Linked DNA regions of Homo sapiens. The protein of the gene in region 2 interacts with the protein of the main gene of each other region in a pairwise test. Each region holds a gene or a part of one and is shown on either strand. Other genes may lie near its edges.

Region 1 (3,500 bases), on a different chromosome or scaffold from region 2:
CTTTATTATAAAATTCTCATGACAATGAATGCCTTAGAATCAGATCCTCCTCCACCTCTCTGACCCTCCTTGATATTTCCTGAGTGAATGTCTTTAAATGAAAGGTAGTGAGAAAGACCATACAGTAAATGCTGGCCTAGTGAGCTGGTGGTATCACTTGTAGCAGATAAAGTGCAAACAGTTGAATATCTGTAAAGCAGAAGTTAGCCCTTCTCTCCTGCAGTTTAGAAGACTCTCTTCAGTAACATTAGAGGAGTTGTATTTTGCAAAATGATCTGATTGAGGCGAAGGCATTGTCCTGAAAAATGTGGAATAATTGTGTTCTGCCTTAACTATGCTTCAGAACATTTTCCTAGAGCTCATCAGTACTTTAAGATAAAGATGTAAAAGTATTCCCTCTAAAGCATTCATCCTGACCAATAAAGAAAATATATTCATTTCAAATTCAAACTTTTGGGTTGGGTGTGGTGGCTTACGCCTGGAATCCCAACACTTTGGGAGGCCAAGGCGAGAAGATCGCTTGAGCCCAGGAGTTTGAGGCTGCAGTGAGCCATGATCACACCACTGCACTCCAGTCTAAGTGACAGTGAGACCCTACGTTATATGTGGTGTATCTTAGGGAAAGAAAAACAAAATCCTTATGACTCTTGATGTCATATTCCTGTTCTCCCTGGCAGCATGGCCGCTGTGGGATTCCTGAAGCCCTGGTGCAGAGATACGCAGAGGACTTGGATCAGCCCGAGCGGGACGTCGCCGCCAACATGGACCAGATCCGGGTGAAGCAGCTTCGGAAGCAGCACCGCATGGCGGTGAGCAGCCCACAGTTCTCCAGCTTCCTGAGGCACATTTAGTGATCACGCTTAGTGATGACCATACTAACAACTGCCAAGTAGGCAAGGGCTTGCGTAGCTATGGAAAGGAGACAGCTGGGGAGAAAGTAATATGTGGTCAGCCTAGAAATGTTTAAAAATACACTTTCAGAAAGAAAAAAAAAATGAAAATTATCCGTAATCCCAACACTGTGAAAAACTTTTTAAAGATCCGTCTAGTGCTGGGCGTGATAGTGCACACCTGTAATCCTAGTTACTTGGGAGGCAGAAGCAGGAGGATTGCTTGAGCCCAGAATTTTGATGCCGGCCTGGGCAACATAGTGAGACCCCATCTCTTAAGAAATAAAATAAAATCCGTCTGAATGACACAGTTTCAGTTAGAAGCATAACTTCCAAAGATCTATTGTTCAACATGGTGACTACAGTTAATAACAATGTATACTTGAAAATTGCTAGGACAGCAGATCTTAAGTGTTCTCACCACAAAATATAGTATATGAGGTAATGCATATGTCAAATAGCTTGATTTAGCCATTCCACAATGTGTACATTTATCAACACACCACGTTTTACACCATAAATACACACAATTTTTACTTGTCCATTAAAACTCTGTCTAGTCATTTCTCTGCACATGCGTAATGTATGCGTAAATGTATAGTACCGAAACCTGATTGTTGGCTATTATCAGATCATGAATCTGTTTCCCTGTTACTTAAAAAAAAAAAAATTGATATCATCAATACAGTAGTCTCCCCCTATCCATGAGGGATTATGGTCCAAGACCTCCAAGTGGATCTCTTGAAAGCTTGCTGAGTACCAAACCCTGTATATATTATACACAAATTTCTTTTTCCTTCACAATTTCATGGATAGAAGATTCGTTTTCACTGTAGGTCTTAGGAACCTCAGCATACAATTTTTTTTCTTTTCTTATTAAGTCAAGAACTCTCACCTTTTTACTTAAAGGAAGCACTTAAGGGCTTCTCTTTGCCACGTGCGAATGGCCAGCATCGTTACTCTTGCACTTGGGGGCCATTGTAAGGTCAAATAAGAGTGACTTGAATGCAAGTACTGCATTACCGCAACAGTTGATCTGATGACTACGGGCTACTAAGTGACTGCGGGGCTGGTGGTGTAGGCAGCGTGGATTTGTTAGACAAAGGGATGATTGTCAGGTGGGACAGAGCTGGGTGGTGTGAGATTTCTTCAGACTACTCAGAATGGCATGCAATATAAGACTTATGAATTGTTTATTTCTGGAAATTCCCATTTAATATTTTCAGGCTGTAGAAAGCAAAACCATGGATAAGCAGGGGGGTGGCTATTGTATTTCAAAGTATTCTAGTAGGTCAGTGTACTCTAGTAGTGAGTCTCATAGTTAAAACATTTAGATTTTTCTAACCTTTTATTTTAAATAATGTAATGAAGAACATCCTTGTTAATAAATCTTTGTAGACTTTAAAGGTTAATTTCTGAGTAGATATTCCTGGAAGATGGTTTGCTTCATCAAAATTGTATAAAATCCCAAAGATTTTCATACTCGTTAGCAAATCACCTTTCTGAAAGGTGCAGGCCCTTTATATACCCAGTAGTCAAGGTTAAATGTCCACTTCCCTGTTCCAGCCAACCCTTGATATTATTGTATTTTAAATTCTTCATAACTTGTATTGACTAAACATGTAATTTTCTGGTTGTTAACATAGATTCAAAATACAGTGGAAAGTCTCCTTTATAAAAACCCTACCCACTGAATGCTACATTTCACACGATCACCCAGATTTGTCCCTTCAGACTACCTTAGGGCTCTTTGTCAAGAGCATATCCACAGTGAAACAAAATAGCAGAATATGTAAATGCTTATAGTTTGAAGACTCGGACACATAAATGGGATTTGACCTCATTCCAACACCTTCGAGAACCTTGTGGAACTCTTCCTTAAAGATTTGTTTCATCTTAGAGAAGAATTTTTCCTGCTAGTCTTGATCTCTGACACTCATTGCATTGTCGCTTTCTGATAATAGTCTAGCAATGCAGTATTTCAGTGCTGTTCCTTTTAGACATACGCGAAGTAGTCCTCGATGACACATGGAGCGTTTCTATCATATTCTTTCTTAATTTATCCAGATTCCAAGTGGTGGACTCACGGAAATCTGCCGAAAGCCCGTCTCTCCTGGGTGCATTTCGTCTGTGTCAGATTGGCTCATTTCCATCGGTCTGCCCATGTACGCCGGCACCCTCTCCACCGCGGGCTTCAGCACACTGAGCCAAGTGCCTTCTCTGTCTCACACTTGCCTTCAGGAGGCCGGCATCACAGAGGAGAGACACATAAGAAAGCTCCTATCTGCAGCCAGACTCTTCAAACTGCCGCCAGGCCCTGAGGCCATGTAGCCAGGCCCGGAATGGGCCTCTCTGGACAAGAGCCACCCTTTCACTGTGCATATGATGCTGATGCAATTCCTCCATCATCTCTGGACGTGCAGACCAGATCCAGAAGAAAGGCCTGGCGTGTGGCCAAACAGCGTGAAACCTTGGCACAGGACTGAGGATCCTCTCCTCCAGAAAAGCCCCCTCGAGGAAATAAATTAGTGCGGTTCTCTTTGACCCCCAAAGACAAGACAAGCACTTATTTTTATTTTCAGAAGACAAAAGAACCAAGATGCCAACTGG
Region 2 (3,500 bases):
ACATGCACACACACACACATCACACAACACATACACACCACACACACACCTCACACATCACACAAAACACACCCCACACATACCACATGCACACGCACGCACACCACACACACACCTCACACATCACACAAAACACACTCCACACATACCACATGCACACACACACATCACACAGCACATACACGCACACACCACACACACCTCACACATCACACAAAACACACCCCACACATACCACATGCACACACACACATCACACAGCACACAACACATACACACACACCACACACACACCTCACACATCACACAAAACACACCCCACACATACCACATGCACACACACACATCACACAGCACATACACACACACCACACACACACCTCACACATCACATAAAACACACACACACCACACAAACACACACACACACACAGTGATTACTGTGTGTCAGGCATTTTCCTAAGAGTTTTGCAAACTTAATCCATTTAATCCTCTCACCAACCACATAAAGTAGGTATTATTATTGTTGTTATTATGATGATGATGATGATGATTATTATTTTTTTTGTTGTTGTTGTTTTCAAGCTTTTATTTTTTTATTTTTTTTTTTATTTTTTTTTTTTTCAGACAGAACCCATGCTCTTTATTAGATTATGTTGCCTATGTTTAAAAGTGTTCAAATTCAGTCTTTTACATTGAAAATAACTTTTTTTTTTTTTTTTAATTATACTCTAAGTTTTAGGGTACATGTGCACATTGTGCAGGTTTGTTACATATGTATACATGTGCCATGCTGGCGCGCTGCACCCACTAATGTGTCATCTAGCATTAGGTATATCTCCCAATGCTATCCCTCCCCCCTCCCCCGAACCCACCACAGTCCCCAGAGTGTGATATTCCCCTTCCTGTGTCCATGTGATCTCATTGTTCAATTCCCACCTATGAGTGAGAATATGCGGTGTTTGGTTTTTTGTTCTTGCGATAGTTTACTGAGAATGATGGTTTCCAATTTCATCTATGTCCCTACAAAGGATATGAACTCATCATTTTTTATGGCTGCATAGTATTCCATGGTGTATATGTGCCACATTTTCTTAATCCAGTCTATCATTGTTGGACATTTGGGTTGGTTCCAAGTCTTTGCTATTGTGAATAGTGCCGCAATAAACATACGTGTGCATGTGTCTTTATAGCAGCATGATTTATAGTCCTTTGGGTATATACCCAGTAATGGGATGGCTGGGTCAAATGGTATTTCTAGTTCTAGATCCCTGAGGAATCGCCACACTGACTTCCACAATGGTTGAACTAGTTTACAGTCCCACCAACAGTGTAAAAGTGTTCCTATTTCTCCACATCCTCTCCAGCACCTGTTGTTTCCTGACTTTTTAATGATTGCCATTCTAACTGGTGTGAGATGATATCTCATAGTGGTTTTGATTTGCATTTCTCTGATGGCCAGTGATGATGAGCATTTCTTCATGTGTTTTTTGGCTGCATAAATGTCTTCTTTTGAGAAGTGTCTGTTCATGTCCTTCGCCCACTTTTTGATGGGGTTGTTTGTTTTTTTCTTGTAAATTTGGTTGAGTTCATTGTAGATTCTGGATATTAGCCCTTTGTCAGATGAGTAGGTTGCGAAAATTTTCTCCCATGTTGTAGGTTGCCTGTTCACTCTCATGGTAGTTTCTTTTGCTGTGCAGAAGCTCTTTAGTTTAATTAGATCCCATTTGTCAATTTTGGCTTTTGTTGCCATTGCTTTTGGTGTTTTGGACATGAAGTCCTTGCCCACGCCTATGTCCTGAATGGTAATGCCTAGGTTTTCTTCTAGGGTTTTTATGGTTTTAGGTCTAACGTTTAAATCTTTAATCCAGATGATGATGATTATTGAGACGGAGCTTCGCTCTTGTTGCCCAGGCTGGAGTGCAGTGGCACGATCTCTGCTCACCACAGCCTCCGCCTCCCGGGTTCAAGCAATTCTTCTGCCTCAGCCTCCTAAGTAGCTGGGATTACAGGCATACACCACCACGCCTGGGTAATTTTGTATTTTTAGTAGAGATGGGGTTTCCTCATGTTGGTCAGGCTGGTCTCGAACTCCTCATCACAGGTGATTCACCCGCCTTGGACTCCCAAAATGCTGGGATTACAGGCATGAGCCACCACGCCCAGCCTGGTACTATTATTATTAACCCATTTTGGGGGATGGGAACACTGGGGCCCAGAGAAGTTTAGTGGCTTCCCCAGAGTCACACAATAAGTGGTGAAGCTGGGCTTTGAGTCCACACCCTGCGGGCAGGCCTCTCCAAGCTGCCTCAGCGGCAGAGCTGTGGCCACAAAGGAAGGCTGAGCTGGGGAGGGATCCTGGGACTGCAGCAGGCACATCTTTGTATCCAAGGGATTTGGCCTCTGTCTTGGTCCTGGGGCCGGGTAACACTGTGTAGCAGGACACTCACTGCTCACATGACATTGTATCTGGGAGAAGGGCAGGGTGGCATGTGGACCTTTTGTCTGGAAAGGGTCACCCTGGGCCGCAGCCGTGTAACCAGGTAGGGCTCCTCCTGACACCAGAGGAGACGTGGCCTCAGTTCTACTCAAGTCAATGGAGTTTTCAGGCTGTTGGTAAGAAGGGGGCTTGGGCTTCTGAGAGTACGTAGACAACCCCTGCCTTGTCCGCAGCCTTGAAGGGTATGCCGAAGGACCTAGAATCCAGCTGGCACTACCTCACTTGTTGCTGGCACAGGGCATTGCCCATGATGGCACATAGGATACCTCTTACAGGCCCTAGCAGTGTTAGATCCAAACTGCTGGGCTTTAGCTAAGGCCCCGCTACCCTGATGGCAGGAAGTGGGATGAGCTCTGGGCAGGTGGATGTTTATAGGGTAAGCAAGGCTGCGGATCAGCCCTGACTCCCATCCCCCACTGTGCCCTACTGCCCTTTGGGTTTTCTGTGTACTGCCTGTTCACCCACAGTCATCTGAGTCTCTGCAGGGTGGGCAGATGGTGGAGGAGGAAGTGAAGGAGGGGGTGGAAGGAGGTGGGCCCTGTGTGGTGTCAAAGCACACTTGTCCATCAGCTCCTGAGCTGGACTGGTCAGCTCCCTGGAGCCCCTATGGCGGCAGGCTGAGGGCCCCTCCCTTCATGACATCCTGTCTTGATTTTCTAGGATCCTCCCACCACTGGAAGGCCCCCCTGCCCAGGCATCCCCGAGCAGCACCATGCTTGGTGAGGGCTCCCAGCCTGATTGGCCAGGGGGCAGCCGCTATGACTTGGACGAGATTGATGCCTACTGGCTGGAGCTCATCAACTCGGAGCTTAAGGAGATGGGTAGGTGACCACTGCATTAAGAATGGGATCACGGCTGGGCAGGGAGGGTTTTCTCCCCATCCCGAGAGGGACAGTGGCCCAGGCAGGGCTATGGTATGGCATGGATCTGGAGGGAGTCTCCATACTGCATTACTGAATGGGGACCTCACTGGTTAGTGTCTCTGTGCCACCTGAAGTTT
Region 3 (3,849 bases), on a different chromosome or scaffold from region 2:
ATAGACCTCAGCCCTGAAAGCAGTGATCGGAGTTTTTCAGATCCCCAGTCTAGCACAGACAGGGTAGGTGATATCCATATTTTGGAAGTCACAAATAACCTAGAGCATAAGTCCACTTTTAGTATTTCGAATTTTCTTAACAAGAGCAGAGGAAATAACTTTACTGCAAATCAGAACAATGATGATAATATTCCAAACACCACTAGTGACTGCAGGCTGGAGAGTGAGGCCCCCTATTTGTTGAGTCCAGAGGCTGGGCCTGCAGGTGGGCCCTCCTCTGCCCCTGGCTCCCATGTAGAGAACCCATTTAGTGAACCTGCAGACTCCCACTTCGTCAGGCCTATGCAGGAGGTGATGGGCCTGCCGTGTGTGCAGACTTCAGGCTACCAAGGAGGAGAACAGTTTGGGATGGACTTTTCCAGGTCTGGTTTGGGCCTCCACTCCTCCTTCTCCAGGGTAATGATAGGTTCCCCAAGGGGAGGAGCCAGTAACTTTCCTTACTACCGCCGCATAGCTCCCAAAATGCCAGTTGTAACTTCCGTCAGGAGCTCACAGATCCCAGAAAACTCTACCAGTTCTCAGCTAATGATGAATGGAGCTACGTCCTCATTTGAAAATGGCCATCCTTCCCAGCCTGGCCCTCCACAGTTGACCAGGGCATCTGCAGATGTTCTGTCAAAGTGCAAGAAGGCCTTATCAGAGCACAATGTTTTGGTTGTAGAGGGAGCTCGCAAGTATGCCTGCAAAATCTGCTGCAAAACTTTTCTGACTTTGACAGATTGCAAGAAGCACATCCGTGTTCACACAGGTGAAAAGCCTTACGCCTGCCTGAAGTGTGGCAAGAGGTTTAGTCAGTCCAGCCACCTGTATAAGCACTCAAAGACTACCTGCCTGCGCTGGCAGAGCAGCAATCTTCCCAGCACTTTGCTCTAGCTGTTTGTCCTTACAAGACAACGCTGAGGCCAGTTGTCAGACTGAATTTCTTTTGGTAAGCAGTTAATGCCTTTGGGTTCGAGGCTTCCAGCTGCCCAGTGGCTCTTAAACAGTTTAGCAACTAATAACCGGAGAACTAACATGTAGTATTTGTGCTGCTGCATTTCTGAGTGAAGTGCACGTCTTGGGAAAGGGATGCAATCCCTGAAACCAGGTGCTTCCTTGGGGTTGAGTAATGCAGTCAGAAAGTAGTTTGTAATTGATATTAAAAGTGGCACATTTAAAAATTTAAAAATTGAAGTGCAAAAAAAATTTTTTAGCAATTTTTGTAAAACTGTGTAGCATTTAAATTTCCTATACCTTCTGATGGGAGTATTATATCCCTGTATAGTGATGCAAAATGCACTTATGTGTAACCAGTGGTGATTTGGTGCCTGTCTTAAAGGAAGGCCTTTGAGGACACACCTGTCTGCCACAAATGCTTTAAAGTGTATCATGAGCTAGTCCTAGGCCTCAAAGTACTGTATTTTTTATTTTTACCTGATTTGCAGTCATAAACACTGCACTTTGGTGCTGACACTGGGTCCAGAGTGAGCATTCTCTTGGACTATTAGATGTATATACTTTTGAATACATCACTGTTGGATAGATGTTTTAACAGTTTTTTCTGGTTTAAAAACCAAATTGTAAATGGAGTGTGTACTTGTAGAGAGTGACAAGGTATTGTTTCCCTATGTGCTGTTTGAGCAGTATTTTAACCAACTTGTATTACAGATGTTACAGTTCCATGTTAGGAAGTCAGAAAAGACTTGTGTTTGTCTTTGTTCTGCTGATGTGGAGTCATGTTTTGTGGGGTCTTCCATGGCACATTTACCTGTTGCTCCGTCCAGATGTTGAGGGCCAGTCTAGGCTGACACATCCTACCCGAGGACAAGCCTGTTCTCCATTTCTTCACTCTCCCCTCCCCATATAGCAACTCTCCCAGGTTTAGATTACCGTTTTCGACGACAGATTAACCAAAAATGCCCCACACAGGTTTTATTACTGTTATATACTATACTTTTAACAGTACAGACCCTAAATTTTATTATTTGTTGCTCCCCCAATCTGATACCAAATGTTTAAAGTTGTTTGAAATCCAAACATGGTAGTGTTCATGGGTAAATATTTTCTAGGCTATGTAAGAGTTAGCAGCCCATAGCATAGAAGTAATCAAGTAGCATCTGAGACTGTTGGAGGCACTAGGGCCTCTCTGGGCCCTACAGCCTCACTTCCCCAGCCTCACCTTGCTGTCCTCTGACACTGCCATCAGGGCTGTTAGTGGCACCTGTATGAGGCCAAGTGTGCGTCCAGGGGAACAGCACAGGTTAATGCGTCTCCCTAGAACTCATGAAGTCAGTTTAATTCATGCATGAACATGAGTTCATTTTATGTTTTATATAGCTTTCTTAGACATACCAAACCATCATTCATAAATCAGATAAATTATTCAGTTTTTGTGTTTAGAAAGCTAAGTATGTGTAGCTGGAAACAAAAATGAGCGTGTTTTCTCTCCTGTTAATCTAGAGTGTGCAGTTACACATGTGTGGATAATTTCATGTTCCAGGGGCGCTTGGCATCTCCCATGGACTGATTCCCAGGAAGAAAAGCCCAAAGGGAAACCCACGATTCCTTTCGAGTAGATGTGGGAAAGAGCCCATTGGAGGATATGAGGTCCTGTGAAATTCAGTTGTGTGTGTGGCTCCTTGTTAGCAGTCATGTTGACATGGTGTTAGGAGGCTCCCCATCCACCCTTTACATGATGTAGGGACCAGTGTCTTGTGAGATTAACCTTGGGACACAGTGGGTTAGCCTGGAGAAAATGAGAGGCCCTGCCTGGACCCAGGGAGAGGAGCCAGTGACACAGGCAGAGCGGTGCAGCCCTCCTTCCCTTCCATTTGGAGGAGGTGGTGCCAGGAGCCTGCCCGCTTACCTCTGCTGAAGCATAAGTGGACTTTGCTTTTGGGGCTTATCTCTGATACATGCTGGAGCCCTGCCTCTCCACTGCTAGATGGAACCTGGAATCTCTCATCTACCTCTTAGTCTGTCAGTTTCTACGTGTGAGAAGCAAGCTTGTGGGCCAGTGTCCTTGTACATGCTGTAGCACTTAAAAAATAATTCCAGGGTTCCCTGGAAAACCAGTCCCAGGGTTCCTATGATCTGTAGTTTCTACCTGGATTATAACTGGTTTTGGGTACCTGAATTTTGATTGGTTAGCCTTAATTATAGTCTGGCGTGATCATGTAGAATCTTTTCTGGTGAACAGATCATAAAGTTCTATCAAGGAGTTCTATCAAGGCATCCATGTCAGTGGTGCTATGCTGGTTACAACTTGAGATTTTTGAAATAAAAAATTTGTCATATTCATGCCTCTAAATATGTGTTCTTTTTCTTTACGTTATTAAGGTTGAAACCAAAGAGGGTAATATCTCTTTGCCAGCCCTTCTTTGACTAGTACTTTGTTTTAAACCAAACCTTCTATTAACAGTTAATTGGTCGTTCCTCTCAAATCATTCCCTTCTGCCTTCCCCCGCCTTTTCTGTCTTTGAGCTACGCACATGCATGAGATTTTGCTTTTCAGTCTACCCAGTTGCTCTCTGAGGGCCTGCGTAATCTTGTGCTGCTCCCTGGACCTGCCTCCCAAGTTGGAAACTCCATCTGCCAGTTTGGCTTGGCTGCTGGGAAGAGCTGGAAGCTGATTCCTTGAGCACAGAGCAAGGCATTGGCAATGGCAGTGCTGTGGCCTGACCTTGGAGAGAAGTGGGTAAGGTGGTGATTAAAAAAAAAAAAAATCCACCTGGGGGCAGGGAGGGGCTGGGGGGACAGAATGGGCAAAGGGAACAATATGTGTAGGTGCTGAAACTAATTTTAAAATTA
Region 4 (3,500 bases), on a different chromosome or scaffold from region 2:
GACTTTTACCAAGACGACTCAGAGTCTACACTGTGGCTATTTCTCTGAAAGCAGGAATGGAACATACACTTTCCAAGAGTCCTGTGCAGCTTCAGTATGCCAGAAACCTGCTCTTTAATCCCAGTTCCAAGATTCTGTGCCAGGATGCTGGCCATCCATGCTGAGAGAAGAAAAACACTCACTGCATCACCAACAGCACTACAGCAGCACCCTGCTTTGACACACCCTCCCCGGCCCCTGGGAAAGGCAAGGAGGGTGAGCCTGGGATTGGGAGTGAGCTGGAGAATGACCCCAGCACAACGGAATCAGGGCAAGCAGCTAAGAACACCACAGCAGAGGTCGGCGGGGATCCTGAGGGGTTCAGTTCCTAACTGTCCCATGCCATCACCACCGCACATTTACATCACACACCCACATGCCCCCAACACACAGGTGCACCCATGAATGCACACACTCACACATGCAGCACACCACATATACCACATGTGTATGCACGCACACATGCATTCAACACAACCATCCCCTATGCCACACATGCATACATACATTCATGCGACACACCACAGACACACAGGGACAAACCCATACCTCCCTGACCCTTCTTTACCTGGGTAGGTGTTTTGAGGCACCACCGTCTGTGGGCAGGCCTGGAACTCTGGCACCTGCAGCTCCTCACGTTTCCTTCTTTCTTCTACCTGGAATGGCTGGAGACTTGGAGAGTCTTTCCAGAGGAGGAAATGGAAAAATTGATTTGTTTTGCACCTACAGCACTACCTGGGAGGGTGCTATCCGAATAGATGCCAGGCTACGATCTGGGGGCGGCCCTGGGCTCCGTCCTGGGGACTGGCAGGGGGTGGCCACTCAATAAGTGTCTGCTGAGTGAATGAACCTGAAGGCAAAATGGGCCAACTCCACAAACATGAGCTCTGACGCTAGACAGAATCGACGTAGATCCGGGTTCTACTCCACCCACTCTATGGCCAGAGACAAGCACTTCCCCCAGCCCCATATTTATTCCCACTTTCTGTGGTGGGTTTTCTATAGTCATCACCACAGGCTCCTGCACACTCCGCACATCCTGCACAAACAGCTTGTGCAGAGCCTACAGGGTAGAGATGGTACAGGAGCTACTGCACCACACCAAGTCTCTGAACGCTTGTTCCAGGTGGGGATGGTGTGTCAAAACCTTGTCTGCTTCATGCCAGCTCTAGGTCCCAAAGGGGAAGAAGGTGTGGAGCTGCTGATGATTCTGTACAAAGCTATTTCCTCCTGAAGGAGCAGATGCTTCGAAGCACCATGGCATGGAGATCATGGGTGCAAGTGCTGGCGACACAGCCTGAAGGAGGGCTGGAAACTGCTGCTGCTGAGCCCCAGCACCTCCCCACACCCCAGTGTCCTCACAGCACCCCTGTACCAGGCAGATGGGAAGACTAGACAGGTGAGGCACCTCAAAGGGCTGCGCTCGGTGCCCAGTTAGGAGACACTCCCTCTGCAACTAGGCTTGTCATGAGTATCTGACTTCACTCCTGGAGGGGCTGCTGCATTGTCAGCACAAACCAGATGTTACTTACAGGCAGAGGAGAAAGACATTCCTATTATTTCCCAGTCCTTGGCCAAGGGAGTACAATTCCAATGCCTGGCAAAATTAAGATCCTCCATTCTTTCTATGAAAAGTCAGGGACAAGGCAAGACATGCAAGACCCACATAGAGTCTGGGGAAATGAAGAAGGCAATTAGGGGCCGCAGAGAGAAGCCAGAGAGTGGGCTCACCTCCGGCTGCCAGCAACCCTTCCCCCTACTCTGTCCACTCAGTTCTGGAATCATTACTCACCCAAGTAGGAGACCTGGGGCACTTCTTTGCCCTGGAGATCCTGCAACTCTGGAACGCGTGGCTCATTCTCCTCTCCCTGGGAGAGATCTGGCTGGGCAGCTAGGTCGTCTGTTCAAAGAAAAAGGCAGGGTACATGTTTATTAGTAATCTGATCCTGCAGCAACCAGGGCTGGTCCAGAAGAGAGAAGGCGGAGGGATGCCCAGCGGGCATGGCACCATCAGGGGCGAGAAGTGAAAAGGCCAGAGCTGGCAGTGCAGGGGCAGTGGGGGCAGCACACGCAGGGAGAGCTATGGGCTTGGGGGTCTCTCTGAGGCTTTCGGGTGTAAAGCAGACATAAAGGGACAAAACGGTAAGAACGATGGAAGAGAAATGGACATACAGCACATGTTCTATTTGGTTCTGATAAGCCTGATGTGGCGAGACAGCAGGTGATGGTCAATCGGACACACTGCCTGTAGGGCCGCTGTGTGCAAATGACCTCCTGTCCAGGTTGGGGGTGAACAGAGAGATCTGATGCAGGCCCCGCTTCCCTGATCCTATGGGACGAAGTTGACTCTTACTCCAAGTGAGAACTCCCCTGCCCAGTTCCCTGGTCTTGAGGTGTGGGGGGAAGTTAAGTCTTACTTGGAGGCATTGAGACCCCGTAATCCTCCCCAATGATGAACTCTCCATAGAAGCCAGTCTGGGCAGGATCTAGAAGGGACCAATCCTCTTCAGAGAAGCATAAAATCATGTCCTTGAATGGAGAAACCCGACTCTGAAAGCACAGGAGAACAGGGATGCCTCAGTCCGGGACGAGCTAGGTGTCTCAGTCTTAGTCCACTGAGGCTGTGACAACACAACGCTGTAGGACGGGCAGTTTCTATACAACAGAAATCTGTTCCTCACAGTTCTGGAGGCTGGACGTCCAAGATCAAGGTGCCAGCAGGCTGGGTGCCTGGTGAGGGCCCACTTCTTGGTCAAAAGACAGGTGTCTTCTGTGTCCTTACATGATGGAGAGGGCAAGGGAGTTCTCTGGGGCCTCTTTTAGGAGGGACTAATCCCACTCATGAGGACTTTGCCCTTGTTACCAGATCATCTCCCCAAAAGTCTCCACTTCCTAATACCATCATCTTGGGGATTACAATTTCAACACAAATTTTGGGGAGATATAAACACTGAAACCATAGCATTCTGCCCCTGGTTCCCCCAAATTCATATCCTTTTCACATGCCAAACAAATTCATTCTATCCCAATAACCCTCAAAGTCTTAATTCATTCCAGCATCAACTCAAAAGTCCGGAGTCCAACATCTCATTTAAATATCATCTAAATCAGTTACGGTTGAAACTCAAGGCACAATTCTACCTGACACAAAATTCTCTCCAGCTGTGAACCTGTGAAATGAAACAAGTTATGTGCCTTCCAAATAGTGGTGAGGCCGGCGCAGTGGCTCACACCTGTAATCCCAGCACCTTGGGAGGCCGAGGCAGGCAGATTACCTGAGGTCAGGAGTTTGAGACCAGCCTGGCCAATACGGTTAAACCTCATCTCTACCAAAAATACAAAAAGCAGCCAGGCGTGGTGGTGAGCACCTATAATCCCAGCTACTTGGGAGGCTGAGGCAGGAGAATCATTTGAACCCGGCAGGCGGAGTCTGCAGTGAGCTGAGATCATGCCACTGCACT
Region 5 (4,159 bases), on a different chromosome or scaffold from region 2:
TGGGAGGCTGAGGCGGGTGGATCACGAGGTCAGGAGATCGAGACCATCCTGACTAACACGGTGAAACCCCGTCTCTACTAAAAAATACAAAAAATTAGGCGGGCGTGGTGGGCCAAGATCGCGCCACTGCACTCCAGCCTGGGGGACAGAGTGAGACTCTGTCTCAAAAAAAAAAAAAAAAAAAGGAATCGCTTGAACCTGGGAGGCAGAGGTTGCAGTGAGCTGAAATTGCGCCACTGCACTCCAGCCTCAGTGACAGAGCAAGACTCAAAAAAAAAAAGGCAGCTGGGCGCGGTGGCTCATGCCTGTAATCCCAGCACTGCGGGAGGTGGAGATGGGCGGATCACGAGGTCAGATCTGTCAGAAGATCGAGACCATCCTGGCTAACACGGTGAAACCCTGTCTCTACTAAAAATCAAAAAAAATTAGCCAGGCATGGTGATAGGCGCCTGTAGTCCCAGCTACTCGGGAGGCTGAGGCAGGAGAATGGCGTGAATCGGGGAGGCTGAGCTTGCAGTGAGCCGAGATCGCGCCACTGCACTCCAGTCTGGGTGACAGAGTGAGACTCTGTCTCAAAAAAATAAAAGATTAAAAAAAAAAAAGGGTAGGAACTTTCAGCCTGGGCAGAGCCTTTATTCTTGTCACCCAGCAGGGGTGATAAGGTGCCACCAACCTTCTGAGCTGCCATCTAAGGATGGTAAGAGCAGCCTAGCATCAGCTCATGCTCCCTTAGATGTTAGTTTTTGGGGCCAATACAAAATCTTTAGGTGGCCCTCCACCACTGCTGCTCTGTCTGTCTGCTGTTGGGGAGCCAGGGAGAGGCTGCACCCCTAGAAGGGGTCCCACTTCTGGATCTGGTTTGCTGCGTTTGGCCAGGTCCTCATTGTGAGCCTTGCGGATGTGGCGGTAGAGGTCCCCTGACTGCGTGTAGCTCCGCAGGCAGTAGCGGCACTCATAGGGTCGCTCACGTGTGTGCACCGTGGCATGTCGCCGTAGTGTGTAAGAGCATGAGAAGGTCTTCCCACATGTCTTGCAGGTGGGAACATCCTCAGTAAAAACCCCAAAGCTTCCTGGAGCTGCTTCGTACTCAGAAGACAGGTAAAGTGGCTCATGCAGGGATGCGGGTGCAGGCAGAGGTGAGGTCACCAGTCCTCGATGATACTGCCCTGCACCTGGCAGCAGATGGTAGGGTAGATGAGGGTCTGTTGGCAGGAAGTGGTCACTTGGCCCCACCTCCTCCAGTCCTGCTGCCCCTGGGTCTTCAAAAGCCTCTGGCTGGGAGGGCTGTGCCCCATACACTGCTCCTCCAGATGGGAAAGCTCTCTCAGGACCCTGAGGCTGTTCATCTGACACATCAGTCTCTTCATCAGAGATCACAATAGCTTCAACTTTCACCTGGACCAGCTCAGCTTCAGCTGGGGCTGGAGCCTGGGATGGAACTGGAGCTGAGACAGGGGCTGGGGCTGACGTTGGGGCTGAGGCTGGGGGATAGAAGCCTTGCAGTGGTCCTCCAGGATCCTTTGGTTCCACCACCCTCAGACTCTCAGGACCCACATCAAGAGATGGCAGTGGCTCCAATGAAACTGCTGAGATGCCAGAAGAGAAGTAGTTTGTAGGAATGGTCTCAGTGGAGCTACTAGGGCTGGCAAGAGAGACATCAGCCACTGGTGGATGAGGTGCCCGCAGATGTGGTGCGTCAACCTCCATGCCAGGCTGTGTAGTGTCAGCCCCACTAGACATTGGTGGCTCATCTGGAGGACGGACAGTAGGTGAGGGAGCAGCAGAGCCTTTCCATTCCCCTTTGCCCCAGTGGCCTGATGTCTCAGCAGATGCCAACGAAGGTTGGGTGCCACGGGAAGTACTAGACAAAAACTCCAAACTAGGAAGCTGTGAGTTGGTTTCCTCCTCCTTCTTGGTACTGTCTGCCTCTGCCAGGGCCCGGGCTTGAAGCCGCCGCTTACACACCTTGACGATGTCATTCATGTGCAAGTAGCTGGCAGCTGCCAGCACATCCTCCACAGGGGTATCCCCTCTCAGGGTCAGCTGGCCAGCATACATAAAGTCCAGAAGCAGCCCAAAGGCTGGGGCTGTGACAATTTCATTGTGAATACACACCAGATCCCTCTTGTCCAATTCCCGCTCCTTGTAGAAAAGCTGGAAGAATGGGCTGCAGGAGGCCAGCACAGCCCGATGGGCCAAGAACTGGGTACTACCCACCATCACGGTGCAGTCACAAAGGAAACCCTGGGACCGCTGCTCCCGGAGGCTCTGCAGCAGCTGCTGACTGTGTTCTGGGAACTCCATAGTACCCCACGAAGGAAAGGGGGCCCAAAAAAGGTCCCCACCAGTGGCTCCCTGAGAAAAAAGGGCAGTGAGTTAAGACAGGTAACCTCCCCAGCAACCTTATCAGCCCTTAACTATCACTTGCCACTCCAAAACAATCGCTTAAGTTACTGCCCTTCTTTCTCCTAGGTCACACCCAAAGCTCTCCCATTAGCTCCGCCCACCTCGGCCTAACCTTAGAACAGGCCCCACCCCCGTCCGATAAGCCCTGCCCCCGGAAGTCCCGCCCCTTAGCCACCCTCCGCTTCCTTGATGCCCACCCGGTAGCGTCCAACGGCTCCACGAAGTAGAGATCTTTTTCGCTCCCAGGCCTTGCCAGGCGATGCCTCTACGCCCCACTTCGAGAACTCCCTAAGCATCTCCCTCACGCATTCCAGGGGCTAAGGACTACCAGGGTGGGAACTAGCGGAGAAAGCTGATACCTCACCCACCACCGAGCAGCCACAGGGCGAGCTCCGCCCCTTCCCACCTTCTCAGCTTTAATTGGCTTAAGATTGCCCTCCCCTGTCACGGATTGGTCCGCTCTCCACTAACCATCCTCCCTCTAACTGCCGTCTACAATTGGGTGCTCGCCGCCATCGCTTTTGCAGTCAGGCGTTGGATTGGGTGACGCTCCTGTCCTCAACTTTTCCTCTTCGTCCCGCCTTCCTTGCCTCCGAGCCCTCAGGATTGGCTGAGCTTCTCCTTCTACCTAATCCAGCAGGCAGGAGGTACCCGGCTCCGAGTCGCTGAACGCGGCGCTCTCCTGGCGAGGCTGGAGGTCGGGAACCCTGCAGTGTCGGACCCGAGCTGACAGCAAGCCACTCCCGCTACAGGCTGACAGGGAAAAAGAGAACCAACTAGGCCAGGCGCAGTGCTTCACGCCTGTAATCCCAGGACTCTGGGAGGCCGAGGAGGGCGGATCACTTGGGGTCAGGAGTTCGATACCAGCCTGGCCAACATGCTGAAACCCCGTCTCTACTAAAAATACAAAAATTAGCAGGTCTTGGGGGCGCGCGCCTGTAATCCCAGCTACTGGGGAGGCTGAAGCAGGAGAATCACTTGAACCCGGGAGGCGGAGGTTGCAGTGAGTCAAGATCGTGCCACTGCACTCCAGCCTGGGCGACAGAGTAAGACCCTATCCCCCCACCCCCCCAAAAAAAGAGAACCAACTGGTGACTGTGGGCAATAGCCCCACGTCCCTGAACTGCGTTTGTCTCTTGAAGGTCCCTTCCTCTCAAAAATTCTAAGATTTGCCGGGTTCGGTGGCTCACGCCTTTAATCCCAGCAGTTTGGGAGGCTGAGACGGGCAGATCACTTGAGGTCCGGAGTTCAAGAGCAGCCTGGCCAACATAGTGAAACCCCATCTCTACTAAAAATACAAAAATCAGCTGGGCATGGTGGCGCGTGCCTGAAATCCCAGCTTCTAGGGAGGCTGAGGCAGGAGAATCTCTTGAACCCAGGAGGCAGAGGTTGCAGTGAGCCAAGATAGCGCCACTGCACTCCAGCCTGGGAGACAGAGCAAAACTCCATCTAAAACAAACAAACAAAAAAACATTTTAAGATGCCCTACTGCTCCACTCCTCCAAGCTAAGTTTCCGGGGCTCCCGGCTCAGTGATGGCATGAAAGAACTAGCAGCTACAGGGATGATGTCGTGGTGTCCCTAGCCTGGACTCTACAGTCAATTTACAGTGAGAGGATAGAGTGTTCTTTGTTTCCAGAGCGTGCTGAGCAGGTGCTGGTAGGAAGGGTAAGAATGGGGTCAGGATCATAAAATGTCCCAGGACAGGAGAGAAGAAGCAAAAACCGTGTCTACTGAAGAAATCTTTGAGAGTC
Region 6 (3,500 bases), on a different chromosome or scaffold from region 2:
GGCAGTTTTCAAAGAGAAAAATGCCTGTTTACTGATTTTCAGGAGCAAATCATCTATCTATATGAAATTTTGTCTTAATCTGCTCCATCAAATATTGCCCAGCTAAGCAGGGAAACACAGCTGAAATACTCCATAAGGAGCTGAAGGCTTCTTTATTCACTGTTTGTGCCCCAGTGTCTGGTCAGGTGCAGAATGTCTAGTTTGGCTTAGTAAAAGAAATATATTAATAATAAATTTACTATTATGGCATCTAACTGGAATTACTTAAAAGTCTGATTAATTACTTGAAATAACAGTCCAACCCTGTGGAAAATAAGATAAAAATGTTGGAACAACTTAATTTTAGTATACATTAGTATTATTAAATTTTGTTTGTTTTCTATTATAAATCGTAGCACTTGGGCTGATACACTGTAGTGTTATTTTTGTTAAACATTTTATGTACATTTAACTTATGGCTAGTCTGTAAAAACTCATATGGTTTCTTTATGTTGAGCTTCATAATGCTGTTATTTGAGTGTTCACTGATTTTTCCCCCCATTTTTTAGTTTAGTTCAACCAAGGTGAAAAACAAAAGCAAGAAAAAGAAGCCAAAGGATTCAAAGGTATGGAGTATTTTCTGTATTAATTCTTGTCTAAACTCTCCAAAATAGTTAGTTGGACATATACATTAGAATTGAGCAATTCTTGGGATATTTTGAAACATTTGTAGAGAAAGACTTTCTAGGACTTAAAGATGTTTTGGCAGTCTTCTACATTTTGAAGAAATTCCAGGTTCATATTATATAATAGCAAGTCTTGACACTCGTATTCTTTATTGTCTTTTTTATTTTTCTAGGTATTTCTGAGTAAAAAAAAAAAATTGTCATAATGTCCCAAAAAATAAATAAGTCTCAAAAAATAGATAACATATTTAAACTAAAAATGATGAATACTAATCATTATGACAGTCCCAGGATTGATAGAATCCCTTCCTTCCTCTCACCAAAGGCTCTCCTCCAAGCCCATTAGATAAGTAGGGCATTTTTATTTTTATTTTTGAGACAGGGTCTCCTTCTCTCACCCAGGCTGGAGAGCAGTGGTACAGTGACGGCTCACTGCAGCCTCAAACTCCCAGGCTCAAGTGATCTTCCCACCTCAGCCTCCCGAGTAGCCGGAATGACAGGCGCATGCCACCATGCCCAGCTAATTTTTTGTATTTTTTGGAGAGATGGGGTTTTGCTATATTGCCCAGGCTGTTCTAGAACTCCTGCGTTCAAGCGATCTGCCTACTTTGGCCTTACAGGCGTGAGCCACTGTGCCAGAAGTAGGGCACAATTTTTAAGTCTTTGGTGGGTTCTTCATGGCTCTTGTGTGTATGTGGGGAGCAGAAAGGGGGATGGAGTGAGAGAGAGTAGCAAATCTTCAAAGGATGAGAACAGTTAAGGAGTTCCAATACAACTTTTATTTTTATCTTTGACTATGTATTTAGTTTAGATAAAATGGGAGTTTAAACTGAGTAACATTTAAATTTTTTTGGAGCATTGGAAACTATCCTAAATGTTAATTTGAGCTTATTTTTGGCTGTTGAAACTTTTATTACTATGTGTTCCTGTTTATAAGAAAATTTGGATAGATCTTATATATCAGCAATTTGTATGTGTGTTTATATAAGTATTCATCAATTTTAATGATTTTTCTCTTTAATGGAATTTTAAGGTAGAAAATCATTGTCATTTTTCTGTCTTTTAAACCAGCCTATGTTAGTTGGGTCTGGAACAACTTCAGTAACTTCAAATAATGAGATCATCACTTCAAGTGAAGACCATAGGTAAGTATAATTTTTAAATTTTTGCTTCATTTTAACTCAAATGTCTTTACTTAATAAGTTGTGTTAATTTAATATATATAAACTTGTGTTTTATTTCCCTAACTTTCCTTTCTAAAGCTGTGCATCTGACAACCTGATGTAATTCCATCTTGATTACATTTATATAGTGTGGCTAGAAGGCATTAAGAATTCATTCAAACTGTGTTAAAGTCACGACACTGGTGACATTCATTCACTAAGTACATATTGAGAACCTACCATGTGCAAGGCTCTGTGGGAAAATCATAGAAAAATGTCTAGAAATTATTCTTTAAAATAGTCAATAAAGAGAATGTCCTGTTAATACTTACTAGGCATTTTTGCCTGTAAGAGAGGAAGCTGTTTTGGGAGCTGTATATGATGTTATGTTTTCACCTTATATATTAGTGATTTTCAATGCCATCTGGTTGTCAAAACTGAGTTTTCAATAAACAAATATTTAAGAAATAAAACTAGTGAGTAGCAGTAACCTTTTTATATCATACTCCTTTATGAACCAAAAATGTACAACATGGTTTTTTTTTTCTCATTTCTTAAAGGAGCTATCAGAGCAGTTAAAAATTACGTGGTCATTTCATGGATTCTTTAAGTAGGGTAATTGTTTTAAGTTAAAATAATAGCCTGTCTTAGTCAGTTTGGGCTGCTATAACAATATACCATAAACTGGGAGGCTTACACACAGAAATTTATTTCTCACAGTTCTGGAGGCTGGGAAGTCCCAAGATCAAGGTACTGGCAGATTCAGTGTTTGGTGAGGGCCTGCTTTCTGGTTCATAGATGGTGCCTTTTTGCTGTGTTTTCTCATGGTGGAAGGGACAAGGCAACTCTCTGGGGCCTCTTTTATAAGGGCAATAAGTCCATTCATGGGGGTAGAGCCTAATTACCTCCCAAAGAATCCACATCCTAACACCATCACATTGGTGATTAGGTTTCAACATATGAGTTTTGCAGAAACACAAACATTCAGACCATAGCATAGCCTTTACTGAGATTAATTCTTATGTATCAGACATTGTTTTGGGGGTTTACATACATAAACTCTTTCAATCCACTTATCCTGCCTAGGAGGTAAGTGCTATTATATTCTGTCCAATGTACAGATAAGGAAACTCTGAGGCACAGTGCAGAGCGACTTGCCCAAGAACACAAAGCTTATAAATAGCAGAGCTGGGATTTAAGTCATGCAGCCTGGTTTTAGAGTCCACACTCAAACTACTACATCTTTTTAGAGTGCTAACATCTTACATTTAAAAAAAACTTTTGTTTAGATGGAGTTTCGCTCTTGTTGCCCAGGCTGGAGCGCAATGGCGTGATCTCAGCTCACTGCAACCTCCACTTCTTGGGTTCAAGCAATTCTCCTGCCTCAGCCTCCTGAGTAGCTGGGATTACAGCCATGCGCCATGACGCCTGGCTAATTTTGTATTTTTATTAGGGACGGGGTTTTTCCATGTTGATCAGGCTGATCTCGAACTCCTGACCTCAAGTGATCTGCCTGCCTTGGCCTCCCAAAGTGCTGGGATTACAGGCGTGAGCCACCACACCTGGCTTAAAAAAAACCTTTTATTAATACCATTTACCAGTCTCAGTCTCACTTTAAGTTAATTTATAGCAGTTATAATACAATCTTCATTTGTCTTTCAGTCATTTAACA

The links.
Region 1: the proteins of JADE2 (region 2) and SASH1 interact in a two-hybrid assay, tested with the Homo sapiens proteins (one large-scale study listed by BioGRID).
Region 3: the proteins of JADE2 (region 2) and ZBTB5 interact in a two-hybrid assay, tested with the Homo sapiens proteins (one large-scale study listed by BioGRID and IntAct).
Region 4: the proteins of JADE2 (region 2) and ZNF496 interact in a two-hybrid assay, tested with the Homo sapiens proteins (one large-scale study listed by BioGRID and IntAct).
Region 5: the proteins of JADE2 (region 2) and ZBTB3 interact in a two-hybrid assay, tested with the Homo sapiens proteins (one large-scale study listed by BioGRID).
Region 6: the proteins of JADE2 (region 2) and TTC3 interact in a two-hybrid assay, tested with the Homo sapiens proteins (one large-scale study listed by BioGRID and IntAct).

What each region holds. Positions count from the first base shown.
Region 1 is NC_000006.12:148,545,338-148,548,837, forward strand, and holds part of SASH1 (SAM and SH3 domain-containing protein 1), read left to right. Parts: intron 1-677; coding exon 678-809; intron 810-2,957; coding exon 2,958-3,221; 3' UTR 3,222-3,500. UniProt on the Homo sapiens protein: Is a positive regulator of NF-kappa-B signaling downstream of TLR4 activation. It acts as a scaffold molecule to assemble a molecular complex that includes TRAF6, MAP3K7, CHUK and IKBKB, thereby facilitating NF-kappa-B signaling activation.
Region 2 is NC_000005.10:134,556,670-134,560,169, forward strand, and holds part of JADE2 (E3 ubiquitin-protein ligase Jade-2), read left to right. Parts: intron 1-3,160; coding exon 3,161-3,321; intron 3,322-3,500. UniProt on the Homo sapiens protein: Scaffold subunit of some HBO1 complexes, which have a histone H4 acetyltransferase activity. Acts as an E3 ubiquitin-protein ligase mediating the ubiquitination and subsequent proteasomal degradation of target protein histone demethylase KDM1A.
Region 3 is NC_000009.12:37,437,602-37,441,450, reverse strand, and holds the end of ZBTB5 (zinc finger and BTB domain-containing protein 5), read left to right. Parts: coding exon 1-933; 3' UTR 934-3,349; downstream 3,350-3,849. UniProt on the Homo sapiens protein: May be involved in transcriptional regulation.
Region 4 is NC_000001.11:247,307,868-247,311,367, forward strand, and holds part of ZNF496 (zinc finger protein 496), read right to left. Parts: intron 2,590-3,500; coding exon 2,457-2,589; intron 1,940-2,456; coding exon 1,832-1,939; intron 722-1,831; coding exon 608-721; intron 161-607; coding exon of another isoform or gene 6-160; exon of another isoform or gene 1-5. UniProt on the Homo sapiens protein: DNA-binding transcription factor that can both act as an activator and a repressor.
Region 5 is NC_000011.10:62,751,361-62,755,519, forward strand, and holds the start of ZBTB3 (zinc finger and BTB domain-containing protein 3), read right to left. Parts: upstream 2,801-4,159; 5' UTR 2,604-2,800; intron 2,356-2,603; 5' UTR 2,305-2,355; coding exon 730-2,304; 3' UTR 1-729.
Region 6 is NC_000021.9:37,160,254-37,163,753, forward strand, and holds part of TTC3 (E3 ubiquitin-protein ligase TTC3), read left to right. Parts: intron 1-548; coding exon 549-605; intron 606-1,736; coding exon 1,737-1,810; intron 1,811-3,500. UniProt on the Homo sapiens protein: E3 ubiquitin-protein ligase which catalyzes the formation of 'Lys-48'-polyubiquitin chains. Mediates the ubiquitination and subsequent degradation of phosphorylated Akt (AKT1, AKT2 and AKT3) in the nucleus.